4 linked regions of the Homo sapiens genome follow. The protein of the gene in region 1 purifies or fractionates together with the protein of each later gene. This does not show direct contact. Each region holds a gene or a part of one and is shown on either strand. Other genes may lie near its edges.

Evidence for each region.
Region 2: the proteins of ZNF423 (region 1) and KLHL2 purify together in Homo sapiens (affinity purification with mass spectrometry; one large-scale study listed by BioGRID and IntAct). This does not show direct contact.
Region 3: the proteins of ZNF423 (region 1) and NMD3 purify together in Homo sapiens (affinity purification with mass spectrometry; one large-scale study listed by BioGRID and IntAct). This does not show direct contact.
Region 4: the proteins of ZNF423 (region 1) and RXRA purify together in Homo sapiens (pull-down; one study listed by IntAct). This does not show direct contact.

The regions. Positions count from the first base shown.
Region 1 is NC_000016.10:49,638,995-49,643,323, reverse strand, and holds part of ZNF423 (zinc finger protein 423), read left to right. Parts: intron 1-2,823; exon of another isoform or gene 2,824-2,881; intron 2,882-4,329. UniProt on the Homo sapiens protein: Transcription factor that can both act as an activator or a repressor depending on the context. Plays a central role in BMP signaling and olfactory neurogenesis. Associates with SMADs in response to BMP2 leading to activate transcription of BMP target genes.
Region 2 is NC_000004.12:165,311,695-165,316,023, forward strand, and holds part of KLHL2 (kelch-like protein 2), read left to right. Parts: intron 1-1,234; coding exon of another isoform or gene 1,235-1,257; exon of another isoform or gene 1,258-1,382; intron 1,383-1,543; coding exon 1,544-1,672; intron 1,673-2,331; coding exon 2,332-2,472; intron 2,473-4,329. UniProt on the Homo sapiens protein: Substrate-specific adapter of a BCR (BTB-CUL3-RBX1) E3 ubiquitin ligase complex that mediates the ubiquitination of target proteins, such as NPTXR, WNK1, WNK3 and WNK4, leading most often to their proteasomal degradation.
Region 3 is NC_000003.12:161,230,482-161,234,810, forward strand, and holds part of NMD3 (60S ribosomal export protein NMD3), read left to right. Parts: intron 1-2,917; coding exon 2,918-2,998; intron 2,999-4,245; coding exon 4,246-4,329. UniProt on the Homo sapiens protein: Acts as an adapter for the XPO1/CRM1-mediated export of the 60S ribosomal subunit.
Region 4 is NC_000009.12:134,430,412-134,434,740, reverse strand, and holds part of RXRA (retinoic acid receptor RXR-alpha), read right to left. Parts: intron 2,837-4,329; coding exon 2,745-2,836; intron 640-2,744; coding exon 534-639; intron 1-533. UniProt on the Homo sapiens protein: Receptor for retinoic acid that acts as a transcription factor.

The sequences.
Region 1 (4,329 bases):
GCAAAATCGATGCAAGTATTTACTTGAAAATAAAAATGTAGCGACTGAACAGGACTTTCCTTGAACCCACCTTCTTCCTGAATTCTGGAATGTTCATGTTGGAGGGGACTTTGGGATTGCCTTGGCCACAGTTGCAGGTGTGTGTGTGGTGTCCAGCATCCAGCATGAGGAAAGTGTCATTGCTATAAGAGAGGAGAACCTTGGGCCAGGCGCAGTGACTCACACCTGTAATCCCAGCACTTTGGGAGGCTGAGGCGGGTGGATCACTTGAGGTCAGGAGTTCGAGACCAGCCTGGCCAACATGGTGAAACCCTGTCTCTACTAAAAATACAAAAATTAGCCGGGCATGGTGACATGTGCCTGTAATCCCAGCTACATGAGAGGATGAGGAAGGAGAATTGCTTGAACCTGGGAGGCAGAGGTTGCAGTGAGCCGAGATCACACCACTGCACTCTGGCCTGGGCCACAGGGCGAGACTCCTTCCCCTCCTGCCCCTGCCAAAAAAAAAAAAAAAAAAAAAAAGAAAAGAGAACCGCTTTCTCTGCTGACGCCCCTGTAGATACATCCCGAGCTTTGGCCCTAGCTTATCTCTCTAGCCTGTTTCTAGAGCACTGAGCTAAGTCCCCCCAAAGCAAAATGCATTTGGAGGGGGTGGGATGGCAGCAGGCGAGGTTGAATGTTCTTTGAATAAAAGACTTTAAACAGGGCAATCTGAGTTTGGGACTTTATATGTCAACATGCCCATTTTCCCTGATTGGGCCTTTTCAGTTTAAGGAGCCTTATTTTCATTTCAATTCAGATGATTATAATCTCAGCAGTGGCTCAGCTTGTTGCTCCCAGAATAATACGCTTTGCTTTAGTTTCAAAACTTGTTTGCAGAAAAATAAAGCCAAGCAGCCAGCCTGCAATGAACCTTGGGTACTCTGGTGCCGGGCAGGTTAAGATTCTCCTTTTCAAAGCCTACTGGGTGAATGACTGATGTGGGGCCTCGGGACCAGGTTCTGTACTCCTACAGGATGAAGTTTGGCCAGACACTAAATGGGGCATCTGGCTTGGTACTGGGGGCCAGTTCCTCACCTCCCTGAACCCCACTTCCTCATCTCAGAAATGGGAATGTTACTGCAGACAGCCAGATATGGTTGTTGTGAGGATGAATAGAAATTAATTGCGATAATAGACATACTTAGCACAGTGCTGGCACGTGGGACATTCTCAATAAATGGAGCTGTTAATATTGTTAGCACTTGTGGCACTAATTAGTACTAATTCTTATTATTGGCAAAATAGTGCTTTTGTTTAACAACTTTATTGAAGTATAATTTGCATACCATAAAATTCACTTGTTTGAAGTGAGCAACTCAGCCAGTCTTTGGTAAGTTTACAGAGCTGTGCAGTCTTCACCCACAGTCTAGTTTTAGACCATTTCCCTCATGTCAGAAGGATCCCTGTCACCTGTGCAGCCAGTCCCTGCTCCCATCTCCAGCCTCGGACAGCTGCTAACCTGCCTTCTGTCTCAGATGCGCCTTATTCTGGACATCTCATGTCAGTGGCATAATAGTGCTTTCTCCCATTAGTTTTTCTCATCCACTCCTCCCAGTGATTCCCTTTTTTCAGATGCGTAAAGTGAGTGGTTAAGAGGAATGTTCAGGGCATGGATGAATTCATAGAGGAGCTGGGAGGGCTCTGGCTCTGAGTGAGTGTCTTCTGGTCTTCAGGTGGTGTGAAAGGTTTAGGAGCAAATGAACCCTGGCAGAAATATCTGTTCAGGCTTGTCCTAGGGACAAGAGTGATAGTGGTTTCACCTGCCCAGTTGTTGAGACTTCTCCACACATCAGTTGCTGGGTGGGTTCCAGCCAGTTCCTGTGTCTCTCTGAACCCTGATGAGCCCCTCCCAGAAATGCAAATCATGGGCCAGCCCCAGCCCTCTTCACAAGGCAGGCTCCAAGGAGATCAAGTCCTGAGGACCCTGGAGGCTTTACACGTGGGCCTCTCCCCTTCTTACCCACGCAGGAGTGGTCTTATTTGACTGTTTGGCCCCCAGAAGCTGGTCCAGGCCCACATCACGATCAAGGGGCCTGAATGTGGACAGTCCTGGCATCAGTCTCTGGCACTGTCATTTCCCAGAGCAAGTCTCTGAGGCCGTGCCTCAGTTTCCTCGTCTGTCCAGTGGGAGTGGACCTGGCCACTCATTTGCAGTTGTGAGAAAGCACTTAGCACTGAGTGCTGGGCACACAGGAAGGGCTCAGTGGCAGTTTGAGTGAGTCTGAGTGAAGACATCAAAATAATAAGAAGCCAGTCCAGCCTGGCCTGGAGCGGGGGCCGAGTAGGTCCCCTGGCCCCAGCCATCTCCTCCCTGGGGTCCCTTTTGTCTGTGCCCCAGAGAGCCCAGCTGGCAAGAGCTGGGAATTGGCAGGCAGGGGCTGGGGCGCCTCCCACTGCATCTCATCTGGGGAGCTGGCCACGACTGCTGCATCCTTCCCGTCTGCCGAGCCCGTCATGTGAGGCCCCCGGGGGAGAAGGTGCTGGTGCTCTGGGAGGGTGTTCCAGGAGGCCCCTTGAGCTGGGCTGGGGAGCTGGGCTTCAGAGGTGGGTTGGCTGCCGGAAGCCTTGCAGTCGGGAGCTTTGGAGAACTGCGAGCTTCGGAGAGCCGCATGCATCCCGGTTGAGCTGTGCCAATGGTGCCAGGGGGGTCAGGTGGATCTTCACACAATCAGCGCTGCGGGGGCCAGGGGGTGGGGGCGGGGCCTAGGACCAGGCTCAGCCCCAGCTGTGAGGGACCCCTCAAGACCCCCCAATCAGCCTTTGTTCTCTCTTTAAGTCTTAGGATCGGCCTGGGACAGCAGAGGCAGCTTGTGTGGAGAGCCTTGTAGGGAAACCACAGGTCTGTGATGTGTGTGTGTGTGTGTCTGCAGGTGAATGTGTGTACATGAGCGTGTGCATGTATATTTAAGTTTGTGAGTGATAGTGTGAGTGTGTGGGAGTGATGGTGTGAATGAATGTGTGTGATGGTGGGTGTTGTGTGTGTATGTAGGTAGGCGTGTGTATGCGCATCTGTGTGCCAGTGTTCACCCGTGCTGGGAGCATGGTGCGCCTGCCCCATCCCTTCCTGAAGGTCTGGGCTGCCTCTGGGCCAAGGTTACGTCTGGGTTACGTCTGTGAGGCTCTTCTGAAGACTCAGCCAGGCTGGCTGGCGGCTGGAGAGGCGGGGGCAGTGGTTTATTTCCTCGGGGTTACAAGAGCAAGGTCAGCGGAGCCGAATCTGAGCTTTTGTTTGTCTCTCCCCTGCCCGCAGCAGCCTGCGGTCTGTTTCATTCATTATTAAGTTTTAAATCCAGCCGAAGAGAAACTTGAGCCTTGGAACTCACTCCCTGCCCGGGCTGGCTCTGCTCGGCCCCCGCCGGGGAATGTCTCTAGCTTTATTCACTGTGTCCTGTGTGCCTTTGTTTTCCCAGAAACGGCCTACCCTTAGGTTTGTTTAGTTTTCCTCTGAGGCTAGCCGGGCCAGCAAACGAGGGGGGTTGTGGGGGCTGTCCCCAGGGAGGGTGGGACTGGCTGGAGTCTGTACAAGGATTGTCTCTTCCTTGCCTTTGCAGTGGGGTTAAGGGTCCGCCTGGGTCTGAGCTCTGTGGCCTTCCATGTCCTCATTCATCCTCCAATCACTGTCACCATCTCTCCATCTGTCTTGATCCTGGGTGGGGTTGGGGCAAATCCAGGGGTGCAGTGGGAACAAAGAAAACAAGGGTCTCAGGATGGCCTGGGCCAGGAAACCCACAGATGCCTCTTCAGTGCCCTAGGTTCCCTTCCCACCTGAGCACTGAAGTCTGCTGTCTCTTGCCCTGTGATTTCACACCTCCTATGTCTTGTCTACCACCTGAAGCAGCAGCTTCCAGCTCCATCAGTCCACCCATACCCAGAGAATGGTGCATTCTATGGCCAATCTGATAAGGGCATTTTTGTTGTTGCAAAATTTTGCCTGTGTTCATAAGGACCAGTGGGATTTCCTTCCCTCCAGGATTAGGGATTTGAGGGGAGTTGACTCCCAGGTGTGGATCAAGTGACAGGACTTGTCTTCCTTTTGGCCTATGGGACTGGTGGTCTGTGAGTTCGTTTCCAGTGACTTTGTCCAGGCTGCCCCTCCTTTCCCTATCAGGAAAGTGGCCGAGAGCCTCCCCTCTGATGGGGGGTATCATGTCCTGCCAGGTCCAGGCAAGTGTTGTGAAGGGAAAAGGCGCTCCCCCTTCATTATCTGCCGCCCCTCTGGCGTGCCCTCTGCAGACAGGAAGGCCCTGGTGTCCACTTGCTTCCGGCCCCTGCCCCTCCCCACAGCCC
Region 2 (4,329 bases), on another chromosome or scaffold:
CTGTAAAATTTCAGTTATCCTCTTTTTAAAATTAGCTTCTCTATATAAATCAACCTATATAAAGCCTTTTCTCTCCCTCTCTATCCCCCTCCCTTTATCCCTCCTCCTTTCTCTCTGTGTGTGTGTGTGTGTGTGTGTGTGTGTGTGTGTGTTTGACTTATATAACTGTGTGTGTTTGACTTATATAACACGTGTGTGTTTGACTTATATAACAGCAGTCCCCAACCTTTTTGGCACTAGGGACTGGTTTTGTGGAAGACAATTTTTCCATGGACAGGGGTGGGTTGGGGGGATGGTTTTGGGATGAAACTGTTCCCACCTCAGATCATCAGGCATTAGAGTGTCATAAGGAGTGCACAACCTAGGTCCCTCAAATGTGCATTTCAAGATAGGGTTCACACTTCTGTGAGAATCTAATGCCGCTGCTGATCTGACAGGAAGTAGAGCTCAGCTGTAATACTTGCTCACCTGCCGCTCACCTCCTGTTGTGCAGCCCGGTTCCTAACAGGTTCCAGACAGGTACCGGTCCATGGCCTGCGGTTTGGGGACTGCTGCTGTATAAGACTGTCAACTGATTTTAACAGTTGCTTGGGGGAACAATTCAGGTGACATAAATGTGTAATTTTATATCTGGAGAAGGGCTGTTAAGGGATGGATTGCCACAGTTATTTATTTATATCCTACTTTGTCTCCCAACAGAAGTTAAGGAAGGCTCTAAGTATTATTATTATTATTTTTTTTTAATTGACTTGGGCAAATTTGCAGGTTTCCACCCCCTCCTCATCGTAGGTGTAATCTGTGCACTTAGAAAAAAACAGCTTTATTGTGATATAATCCACATCATACAATTCACCCATTTCATGTATACAGTTCATTGTGCATCCATCACTGCAATTCATTTTAAAACATTTTTATTATCCTCTAAAAGCAATCCTGCTTCCCTTGGCTCTTACTCGTATCTTACCCAACCTTCAGCAACTGCTAGTCTACTTTCTATCACTTAGAGATTTGCCTCTTCTGAATATTTTAGTCATACAGTATGTGATCTTTGGTGACTCACTTCTTTGGCTTAGGGTGATGTTTTCAAGATTTGTTTATTTATACTGAGGCATTTATTAGTACTTCATGCCTTTTTAATGCCAAGTAATATTGCATTGCATTCTGTTATTAATTTTTGATTTAACCTTTTTTCCGATTTCCTAAGATAACTTTGGTATTTAATTCTGTCTTACAGGATGTTGTTCACTTATCAAATAGTGTTACCTAAAGATATAATGAGTGTGCTATTTTATCAGATTATTGATGAAAGTATAAAATTAACATCATCAGCTATACCCTGCAGATCTTCATAACATGATTTGATTACCCCATCTGTCACCATTAGGCAAGACCCTAATATATTTCATAAAAATCAGCAGCACTTTAAGGGGAAACTCTGCTGCCATGAAGGAAAATATATTAATATTTTCTGGCTTGAAAAATTAGTGTTTTTTGTTTGTTTGTTTTTTAATAAATTTGGCTTTCTATGTGATTTTATGTGTAGGTTTGCTCTATGCTGTAGGAGGTTATGATGGAGCATCACGTCAGTGTCTTAGCACAGTAGAATGCTATAATGCTACAACAAATGAGTGGACCTATATAGCAGAAATGAGCACCAGGCGGAGTGGAGCAGGTACATGTGAACCTGTTTTAGCAACTGAAGCACAAAAATGATGGAAAATAGTTAAAGTAAAATGATTCAGTGGCATCACTTTACATTATCTGAAAATATATGATATGCTGATTTTAGTGGCACTGCTAAATGTCTTTTGAATTGTGCAGGTAATGGGAGTAATTACAAAGTAATTTTACTTTAAAATTTAATGTCTAAGTGCCATAGACATTTCTGTTTCATTTATATATTCAAGTTGTTAGCACTCCTTTTAGTTTTTTGTTTTTAGTGCTTATTGGGGAACTTGCTTAATAATCAAGTCTTTTCATGTATATTTCTTAAAATTTTGTGCTTTAATATGCGGTTATTTTACTATGGATATTGTTTTCAAAAGGATTACATTAAAGGACTTTTTCCCTCCCTGTGTTTCACCTACATGTTATTAATATTTTTATTCTGTTTGACATGCCTCTTTTTTCAGAATAATAGTTTGTTGAGATGCTTATTTAATCATCAATTGTATTGATTTCCATTTCTTAAATTGTAGGCTATAGTATCAGCTTGCTTTTATTATGAATTATAACTTCGAAAGTTTTAGTTACAAGTCATTTAAATAAACCTAATATGATATAAATCTCTTGTTCTTTTTGCCCCTCTATTTGGCTGGTTGTGTTTTATAGGTGTTGGTGTGTTAAACAATTTATTGTATGCTGTAGGAGGTCATGATGGCCCTTTAGTACGAAAAAGTGTTGAAGTATATGATCCCACCACTAACGCATGGAGACAGGTTGCAGATATGAACATGTGCAGAAGAAATGCAGGTATCTGTCAGTTTAAGGTTATAAAACTTATGTTGAATTTTATTTTAAGTTTCACTGGTATCACTCTATCAATGAATATCAATGGTATTTCCATTGTTCTTTTACTGATCTGGGTTCCCTGATAGACTCTGAACTCTTTAAAGCCAGAAACTTATGTAATAATCCTATAAAGTGAATGCCTGCCATAGTCTCTGGAACATAACAGGTTGTTGTGACACTTCAGTAAACTCATCATTTCTACTAGCTGCTACTTTTTGGTGATAAATGTGGAGACTAATTAAATTAGGTGTAGACCCTTTAAATGATACTGAATTCATTCATTCTTACAACAGATATAATTTAGTGCCTACTATGTATCTATCATACACTGGAGATCCTAGTTCTCAGGAAATTTAGTCTAGTTGAGTAGATATTTATACTAGGTTAAAAAGCTAGTTGATTATCTAAATCTAGAGGGGAAGTCTGCAAAGGTAACCCTAGCTTAATACAGTTCAGGATTTCCAGAAAAATGGAAAAACTAAAGCAACAACAATAACAACAAATAATTTTAAGAAAGTAGAGAACTTCAAGATTAGGGAACTAACCACTTAAAAAGAAGAATCAAGAAAGGGAAATACAAATGGAAAATAGACTCAAGATAGCTACATAGCCTTTCAGGAAATGCTAGGATTCTTCAAAATGCCATTATCTTCATGTCATTTCTCATAGTGTAAAATAAGTTCCTGGTGAGTCTCAAACTTACTGTACACCATTGGACACCCCCCTCCATCAGCGCTCATCTTAGTTTCTCTTTAAAGAAGGGTGATTACTAAGAGAGACTAAGTATGTGGAACTGCAGATACTGTTGGCAGCAGACCAGAATTTATAGTTAATTCTGTTTGGCCTTGCACGTCATCTAGTCAGTTGTATATGGTAATCAGTTCGTTAGATGGTAAGACCCTCAAATATGGGTCCTTAGTAGAATAAGTGACTCCAGTATACATTAAGTTAGAAAAGCCATGGTGATTTGTGCATGTGTCTTCCTGGATTAGGAAATTTAGTTGCAATTTGAGCTTTTTATGAATATTTTCTTAAAGGTTAGACTAATTTATTTTTTCTCTATATGTGTTTATTGTTTTCATATCAAAATTCACTCATTTAGGTAGAAGAATAAAGAGATAATTTGTATATATAGAGCTACCATTATCCTGTTCTTCAAAAAATTGTGTGGGAAAGGGTAGGATTTAGGAAAAAGACGTAAGTCTCTGTTGAAAAGTTGTTTCATATTTTGATTTAGACAACATTACTTGAGTTTATTTGATAATCAGGAAGAGAGAGAAATCTGAAAGCTTACTTTTCAGTTTGTTTTTCCTTCTCAATCAATGATGTTTATTTTCTATGCAAATAACAAAATTTGAATTATTTACTTCTATAATTTACAAGATACAGTATAATCCAATTGAGCATATATTTTAAAATTATTTAAGTTCATAAGAGTATTTTAAAATCTCACCCTCATTCCATATTCCTGATAATCTGAAACAAACTTCTGATAAGATCTGTTCAGCTCTTCCTTTTTAATAACCTAGGCTAAGGACCTCATCCAAGCACCTAAATTATTGGAAAGAAAGAACTAAGCTGGCAAAGAGTGGAGGACATGTATTCAATGTTAAGCGGGGAGAGGTGAAAGCATCCATATAAATTTGAAATAGCAAGCAGCTTACAAGCCAGATTTCAAAAGTTTTCATAAGTATGGTAAATTATGACACCAAGAGTGGAGTAAAAATGAAATAAATTTGAATTAGATGATTATATATAGACCTTTAATACCTAGCACATCTGTAATAGGTTCTCAATATGAATTTGATTGTGTTGAAG
Region 3 (4,329 bases), on another chromosome or scaffold:
CTCTGGGAGTGTTAGAGTACGGAGGGAAATTTTTGTGAAATTGCAGGGAGAAGAATAATTGGCTGGGGGGTGGCCTCAATAAGTGGAAAAGAGATATAGTACATAGTGAAAGAATACATTTATTTGTTAATTCACTCCTTCATTCAACAAGTATTCAGCACTTACTCTTCACCAAGCACCATTTTGGGAGGCTGTAATATTTCATGGAACAAAGTAAAGATCTCTGCTCTCTAGAGGGGCATTCTGGAGGTTGATCTTGATGGGAGTATGGATAATTCATCTGTGGTAACAGCAGGGAAGGTGTTGAGTGGGAGCTTCTGGGAATTCTCCTCTGGTTCCTTCTTTTGTACTGGAGAAAACAGAAGCGTGGGCAGTAGCTATGTGGGAAGAGCTGTTAGATAGATGTTTGAGGAGAGAGCGGAAGATATGAAATAGTCCTCTAGAACTAGAGGAAATGCACCAGGACAGTGTTGGATGGGTGCTGGGCAGTGCTGAGGGTTACTGTTACAAGTTTAGACTAGTCACTGTGGTGTGCATCTATTTCTGTAGTTCTGTCAGCCACATAGTCAAGGCATAGAGCAGGCAGAGCACTGGATTTAACCAAATTTATAATTTAGCCTAGTGGCTAAGGTGAAATAAGAGAGGGAACAAGGAAATTGAGTGTGTACATGAGAATAATTTTGATTATTGATTTTGAAGCTAGTGAGGAGGAATGAGGAATAAAGTTGGTAGGATGAATGGATTGTCCATTATATTAGCTTGAAAGATATTTGGTGCCCAGGAACTAGAGGAAATAAGCTGGAAAGATGGGAGGTGGTAGTCAGGGAGTAGGATGTTTGGAATTGATAGTTTGGAGGGTTTGCAGTTACTGGTAATAGAGGCATATGAGTGACTGAGATAGGAAGGTGGATAATATTTTGGGAGAAGAAGAACTCAAAGAATGGAGTGAGAGGTCAGGGTATTGTGGGGATCACCTGTGTGGATATTGAAATCGCTAGGTATTAATATTGTTGGAAAGTGTGATGGTGAGCCAGAAGCTAAAATCTTTTGAGAAATGAAAACAAGTGATACAAAGATGAATAGATTACTATAAAAAAGAGAGTTGCGGGTGGTAGAGTCTAATGACTTTAGACTTAGAGCTGGGTATATTTGAGGAGGAGACAAGGAGAATGGTCTGTAATTAGCAATGAAGAGCAAGGACGATAGCTGTCTGGTGCCTGGTCCAGTGATAGGAAGAATCAGTTATCACTTTATATAGCTGCAGGGGAGAGAGAAATCAGGAGATCTAGAAGGTGAAGGGAATGTTCAGCAAAGTTGAGGATTTAGGAGATTTCATTGTTAATGAATGTTGAGCTCCGGAGGGCACAGTAGAAGGGTTTTAGGATTCGGGGAGGAGTGTTAGATGGGGACAGAATAGGGAATATGCATAACCATATGGAAATTGGAGTATGGGAAATAGGGGTGACTGAGGTGTCTGGGACTATGGTAAAGAAAGAAAGGGACTAATAAAGTTGATTAGTCATGGTTGTCTGAGGACACATAGTGCAGTGGTTGTGTTGGGGAATGCCGAGCAGGATGTCAAGGAGACTCTCCATTCCTGCAGGTGGAGGTTGGAGCTTGAGGGGAAGATCAGTCTTATTCAGTGCCTTTGGGGCTTTTTTTTTTTTTTTTTTTTTAACCACTGCTGATGGAGATTGAAGGAATAGGAATCTGCCTATCACCCTGTGTACCTGGCATCACTTGTTAACTACTAGGCTTTGTTTTAGGGAGGCCAGCTATATGAGGAGGGTTTTACTCTGGTGTGTTGAATCTTTGCATCTACACTAAAAGTGGCCAGTCTACTTTTTACCAGACAGTGCTTGATAAAAGTATAATCTGCTGCTGATACCTCTCAAATCTGTTAACTGCAGCCCAAATTTTTTTATAGATCTCCAGACCAATTGTATCTTACTGTTCACTGAAAAGTCCTCTTGGGTATCTCACAGATACTGTCTTAAACTGAAATGTCTGAAATCAAATGTAACATCTTTTTCTCATTATATCCATTGTTTATTTCGGTATAGGTAGTCACAAAAAGTGTACTGCCTAGTTGTCTAAGCAAATACTTGAGCATCATTCTGGAGTCTGTTCTCTTCCTCTTTTCCATATCCAGTTACCATTAAATCTTACAGATTTTTTTTCTGCATCACTTGGACTGTGCAGATAAATCTTACAGATTTTTATCTCCTAACTAGCCCTTGCATCTGCTTTTGTTATTTCCAGTGCCTCTCAGTTCAGATCATCTACAATCTGGCCCAGGTTATTACAGCAGCCTCCATTCTTGTTCTCCCACCCACCCCTTCTCCCCAAACACCCATTCTGGCCATTCTTGAGTTATATTCAGATCTTCACATATAGCAAACTGTTTTGGCCTATGCAGATGCTGCAGATTTAGTAGTGAGTTATAGTTGTGGATTTAGTATTCAGTGCATGCAACTTCTCTAATCAATGTCACTTCTTAAAAAAAGTCACAGAATATAGAGAGAATAATCCAAGTGGAAACTTTTGTTCATGAGGTTACTAATAAATAATGAGGTCACAAGGTCTTTGCTTTCCTCCAAAAAATATAATTTCCTTTTAAAGGACAATGTACTTTTTTTTTTTTTTTAAGGGAAAAGAATTTTTTTCCTATGCAAATACTTTAATTTTTGCTTAAATTATATCAGTTGCATTAATATAGTCATTGGGTTGTCCTTTGATTTGCTGCTGTTGTTACGTAACCAATGATTAATCTTTTTTTGTGATGATGGTGTGTAGTATGCTGATCACAGATTCCTTAAGCATCTTATGAAATCTGCTTATTGATGATTTGTTCTTTCGTGTTTTTTTTCCTCCTAGGTGAGAACTTACGTTTCTTTTTGTTTGTGTTTTATTGAAGGTACGGCTTGTAGATGCAGGCTTTGTTTGGACTGAGCCTCATTCTAAGAGACTTAAAGTTAAACTGACTATTCAGAAAGAGGTAAGCAGTACATAATTTTCTCAGCATGGTTAAAGTGCAGGTAGTGAAAATGAAGACCCAGTGATAAGTTATTTTATGGCTTGAACAGCTTAAAAGAAAAAGAGTACACTCAATTTTAGCTGTTTGTTTTCTTTTGAGCATCTGTACAAATAATTAGATCACTAGTAAGAGTAGTCATTGCTTCTGATTAGCAGACTTACTTTTCCAGAGTTATTTTTATTAGGAAAGGATTGAAGTAAAAACATGGTCTAAGGTACTGATCCTCAAACTTGGCTGATCATTGTAATGACTCATCATAACTGAAGCAAAAATTCTCTGTATGTGAGGCCGGGAATCTATAAGTAGGTTGAGTATCCCTTATCTGAAATGCTTGGGACAAGAAGTGTTTCAGATTTTGGATTTTTTGGATTTTGGAATTTTGCATTATACTTAACTGGTTGAACATCCCTAATTCAAATACAAAATGTTCCAGTGAACATTTTCTTTGAGTGTCATTTAGAAACTCAAGAAGTTTCAGATTTTGAAGCTGAAATTTCAGATTCTGGGTTTTTGGATTTGGAATGTTCAATCTGTATTTAAAAAGCTTCCCATGTGATTTCTGATCAGTTATGTTTGGGAATCATTAAATTAAGGAATTTTTTTTTTGAGAAGTTTTCCTTATTTTTTTCTTCTAAGGATGATTTTTCTATGTAAACATGTATAGGCTGGGCATGGTGGCTCACACCTGTGATCCCAGCACTTTGGGAGGCCAAGGTAGGCAGATCACTTGAGCCCTGGAGTTCGAGACCCCATCTCTACTAAAAATACAAAAGTTAGCTGGACGTGGTGGTGTGTGCTACTTGGGAGGCTGAGGTGGAGAATCACTTGAGCCCAGGAGGCAGAAGTTGCAGTGAACCAAGATCGTGCCACTGTACTCCAGGCTGGGCAACAGGCAGAGTGAGACCCTGTCTCAAAAAAAATTATATATATATATATATATGTAAAATATACACAGAATATTCTCACAACCACTTCAGCTAAAGGAAAATTTGAAATGCTAATCTAATAAATCTTAGGAATTAAATCTGTATACCGTTCTTGAAATAGTATAACTTGTTTTTATGACTTTAAATTTGAGGACATTTGATTGATGTCCTCAAAGCATTAATGGAAAAAGTTTTAAATTAAATATTAAAGGTTCTTCTTTAAAGAAAATATTTGTTATTAAACAAAACCAAAAGAATGAAGGAGTGTAATTGTTTTATCAGGTGATGAATGGTGCTATCCTTCAACAAGTGTTTGTGGTGGATTATGTTGTTCAGTCCCAAATGTGTGGAGATTGCCATAGAGTA
Region 4 (4,329 bases), on another chromosome or scaffold:
ACTGTGCACCCAGCACTGTGGACTCAGAAATGAGGGAGCCCCAGCCCTTCCAGGGCCCACAGCCGGGCAGGGGGGAAACATGAGCGCTACGCTCAGGCCGTGACCGCCTATTCCGTACACACTTGTAGAGAGTGTTTAGTATGTGTGGGCATCTGGCCATCCATTCTACACATGCTTGTGAAGTACCTACTATGTGCTGGTGTCGCCTGGCCTCTGGTGGTTCTGCTTGGTAGGGGAGCGCAGTGGGGGGTGAAGCACAGCCTTCATCTATCTACTGAACAAAGAGAAGCACCTACTATGCGCCAGGTGCAAGGTAATCCTTCCAGTGGGGATACGACGTGGGCCTGTGGGGTGTGCCCGCCACAGCCCACTGGCCTGGAGGACCTCCTGCTGCCTGCTCAGGACCTGCTGGCATGGGCTGGGCCTGGGGAGGGTGCCACCTTCTCATTCACATAAAATGGCCTTGCAGGGGGTGGGGGCTCTGGAGACAAGAGCCTGGGTCTGGGGTGTGTGTGGGACGGGGCGGGACCCACCTTCCCGGCTGCTCTGGGTACTTGTGCTTGCAGTAGGCCTCCAAGGACGCATAGACCTTCTCCCTCAGCGCCTCCACCTCGGCCGGGTTCGAGAGCCCCTTGGAGTCTGAAAGGAAGAAGCCACAGGTCAGAACCCTCAGCTGGGGCGTGTCTCGGGCACCTGCCCCCAGGACCCAGGCTTGTGTGGGGTCTCCCAGGCTGCCCCACCATGGGCAGAGCAGGTGGTGGAGGAATGCCGCTGGACATGCCTCCGCCCGCTCCCCCAGAGCCTGGTGGCAGGGGGACGACTGTGGAACCCACGGCCAGGCCAGGCTGCTCTGGGTCCAGGCTCAGCTCTGCCACTTGCCAGCCACGTGACCTTGGGTCAACTATTTGACCTCCAGAGACTCGGTTTCCCCATCGATAAAGTGTCAGGGATCTGCTGCCTTCCTTCCAGCCGCCTTGGGAACTGGGAGAGACAATGGATGCTGCTGCTGCCCTTGGGTCCCAGCCCCATAACATGGATGGGAGATAGCGCTGCTGCCCCCAGGAGTACCCAGACCCTGCGGAAACCCATCCTCGGTGTGCTTGCGGAGTCCTGAGCTCAGGACCCGGGCTCAAGAGCCTAGAGTGGACAGAGAGGCTAAGATTGCAGCCACCAAAACCTCCAAGGCCCAGGGACCCCCTGTGAATGCCACCTTGGCCCCCAAGGCCCAGGGACCCCCTGTGAATGCCACCTTGGCCTGTGTCCTGGGCTCCTTGGCAACGTACCTGGCTCCCCCAGCTGCCTCCGCTCCAGCCAGTCTCCTCGCCCTCCCTGCATGCCTGTGCCCTGGTCTCTTCGCTTTCCCTGCAAGCCTGTGCCTGGACCCTGCTTGTGCCAGACAATCTCACCCTCCCTGCAAGCCGGTGCCCAGGTCCTGCTGGTGCCCCAGCTCTAGCAACCAGACCACACAGGACCTGAATGGGGATTCCTCGGGCCGGGCCGGGCCGTGGCATGACTCAGCCTCCGAGCTGGCAGGATTACGGCCCGGATGCACAGCCTGGGTGATAAAATGACCCTGGAAACAAGCTCTCCCCACAAGAAGATGCCCATCTCCATCCCGGCCCGGTCCCTCAGAGCCAGGTCTGACAAAGGGCAAGGTCAGAAGGTCAGGGCCAGGAGCCGAGAGGGCTCCACTCCCTCCACCATAGCCCAAGTGAGCTCCCCACAGCAGCCCCAAACCTCTCCCTCCACACCCCAGCCACCTGCCCCTATCACGCAATGAGCTGAGTTTCCAAACACAGAAACCCATAGCTCCCTCCCGGCTGGAACCCCTCAGGACTTGGCTCCCTGTGGCCCCAAGAAAAAACCCAAACTTAGCAAGACTTTCAAGGCCCTGCCTGGGCTGCCTCCACCAGCCCACCCCACCTCCGTGCCTCTCACTCCCCTGGCCCCTAACTTGCAGCTCCCGGAGGAAGTGGCCCGCACCCTCGACCAACCGTGCTCCTGCCCTCACGTGCCGGGGGTGCCTGCTGGTGGGCGTGACCCTCTAAACCCCAAGCTCTAGGCAGGCAAGCCCTATCCAGCAGCTTGAAGGGGCCCTCCCATGCCAGCAGGGCACCGAGCAAACAGGCACGTGTCAGCACTTGTTGGGCGAAGGAGTAGCACCTAGGAGGCTTTTCAAGCCGAGAACCCAGAGGCTGGAGAAGGGCCGCACTGTCGGCCAGGAGGCCTGTGCCCAGCCCCAGCCCCACAGCCCCAAGCCCTGCTCTCCTCAACCACAGGGGCCCAGCCCCAGAAACACCCTGGACCCGAGGCTTGGGGATGAGGTTGGTCCCCTCTGGAACACCCGGCAGGCCTGACCCATCCCCAGCCTGCAGGGCTTGGGACTCCTGAACTTCAGCACCGGAAGTTCACAACCACAGCTGGCCACTTTCGGAGTCTGGATTCCGACGCACAGTGATGAACACTATGAACCGCGGAGCCCAGACGGCACCACCAAGCCCCTCATGACAACTGCCTTGCTGGGTCCCCCTGTGCCCAGGGACCATGCCCCCTTGGCTGGCCCTCAAGGTGAGCAGAAGGCAGCATGGCCACACTTTCACTGGGAGGGGGGCACACTGAGCTCAAGGAGGGTGGGAGTTGGCCCCACATGTAGCCAGAGGCAAGAAGTACAGCCAGGAGGAGGCCCAGGCACCTCTGCCCCACCAGAGAACGGGGCCAGAAGCCTCAAGGCAGGAAGGCCATACCAGGGTTAAAGAGGACGATGGCGCGCAGGCAGCCCAGCTCCGTCTTGTCCATCTGCATGTCCCGCATCTTGGACACAAGCTCCGTCAGCACCCTGCAGAGGAGGAGGGCAGACACCCCATCCCAGTTAGGTCGCAGCCCTCACCAGGGCCACACCCCAGATACCCAAGGCCTCTGGAGAGCCCGGCGTGGCCCGAGGGCCGCTGAGATGGGCCAAGCCAAGGCAAGGACTCCCAGACACCCCGAGAGGGAGTGGGCTGGAACCCAGGCCCAGGTGCCGCCCCTGCCAGGCCTGCCTGGCCCTGCCCGGAGGGTGGGCTCCTCTCCTCTCCCTCTAGGGTCTGCCTGCGGGGCTTTATTCTGGGAACCGAGGTGCTAAGGAGGGGCCTCGTGACAGCTAAACTGAGGTGAGCCGCAGCTGCACAGAGGGCACAGAGTCCACCCCTCCCGAACCCAGTGAGACACACCACTGTCCCTCCTCAGCTGTGGACCCAGCACCACCTGAGGCAAAGCCCCTTCCCATGCCACAGCCCCAGCCGCTCCCTTCAGTCCAGGAAGATACCTTTCCCCAGGGCCTGGTGTCCCTGGGTGGGGGCTGCCAGAGGGAGGCATGTCTACTTCTTGTCACCAGAGAAAAAAAATCCACCAGCCTCAACACGGGGAAAGCCCGCCAGCTCCCTCCATGGAGACGCTGGGGGCGTTCTTGGATTCAGACTCAGCTGCCCCAGCCCTGCAGCTGGATTCTGAATCACACCAGCCTCTGCAGTGTACTGGGCCCCCTAGCCTCAGCAGCCTGCCCACCAACCCCAAAGCTCAACTGCTGTGTCCAGGAAGTAAGGGTGGGCCACAGCGGGGGAAAGGAGGTGACCAGGTGGGGATGGTTGCCTAAGGAGCCTGGGCTCTCCCCTGTGGGCCAAGGGCGGCCCTGAGGGTCTGCAGAATGGGGAGTGCCCTGGTTGATTCCTGGAAGAAGATCTGAAGGAGGCTGGAGAACAGGGTGGGACAGAACAGGAGCTGGGAGGGACCCCCGATGTCTGCTCTGAGGCAGGAGCACACAGCTGCAGAGGGATGGGGCAGCGGGCATGGAAAAGACCTGGGCCACTGAGGGCAGACTTTGCATTCCACTCGCAAAAAAGGCGAGGAAATGCCGGGGCCTCTGTAGTCACTGCTGTGGGACCCCAGAGAATGTAACCCTGAAACCTCTGTCATCGCCATCTCTCTACCAGCCAGACAAAGGATCTGTCAGCTGGGCAAGTGGCTGGGGCTTCGCTTCCCAAAGCCATATCCCCAGTACCCCTCTAAAGAAGCTTCTGTGGGCAATACACACTGCACACTGCACCCTGCAGCCCCCGTGGGGACCCTCCTGTACACTAACTTCTTAAAGGCCCTGACAAGTCCTGCGGCAAAGACCCTCAAGGACACTGTTTGAACTACCGTTTGCCCACCGTCTGCGGCCACAAACCCTTTTGCACTTGGCACATCCCATGGAGGTCAAGTTCCAGGATCACCCTTGGGACTCTGGGACCTGAACCACCCCCTGGGGCATTGCTGCTGGGGCATTAATCCCCCTGTAAGTGCCGGTGCATG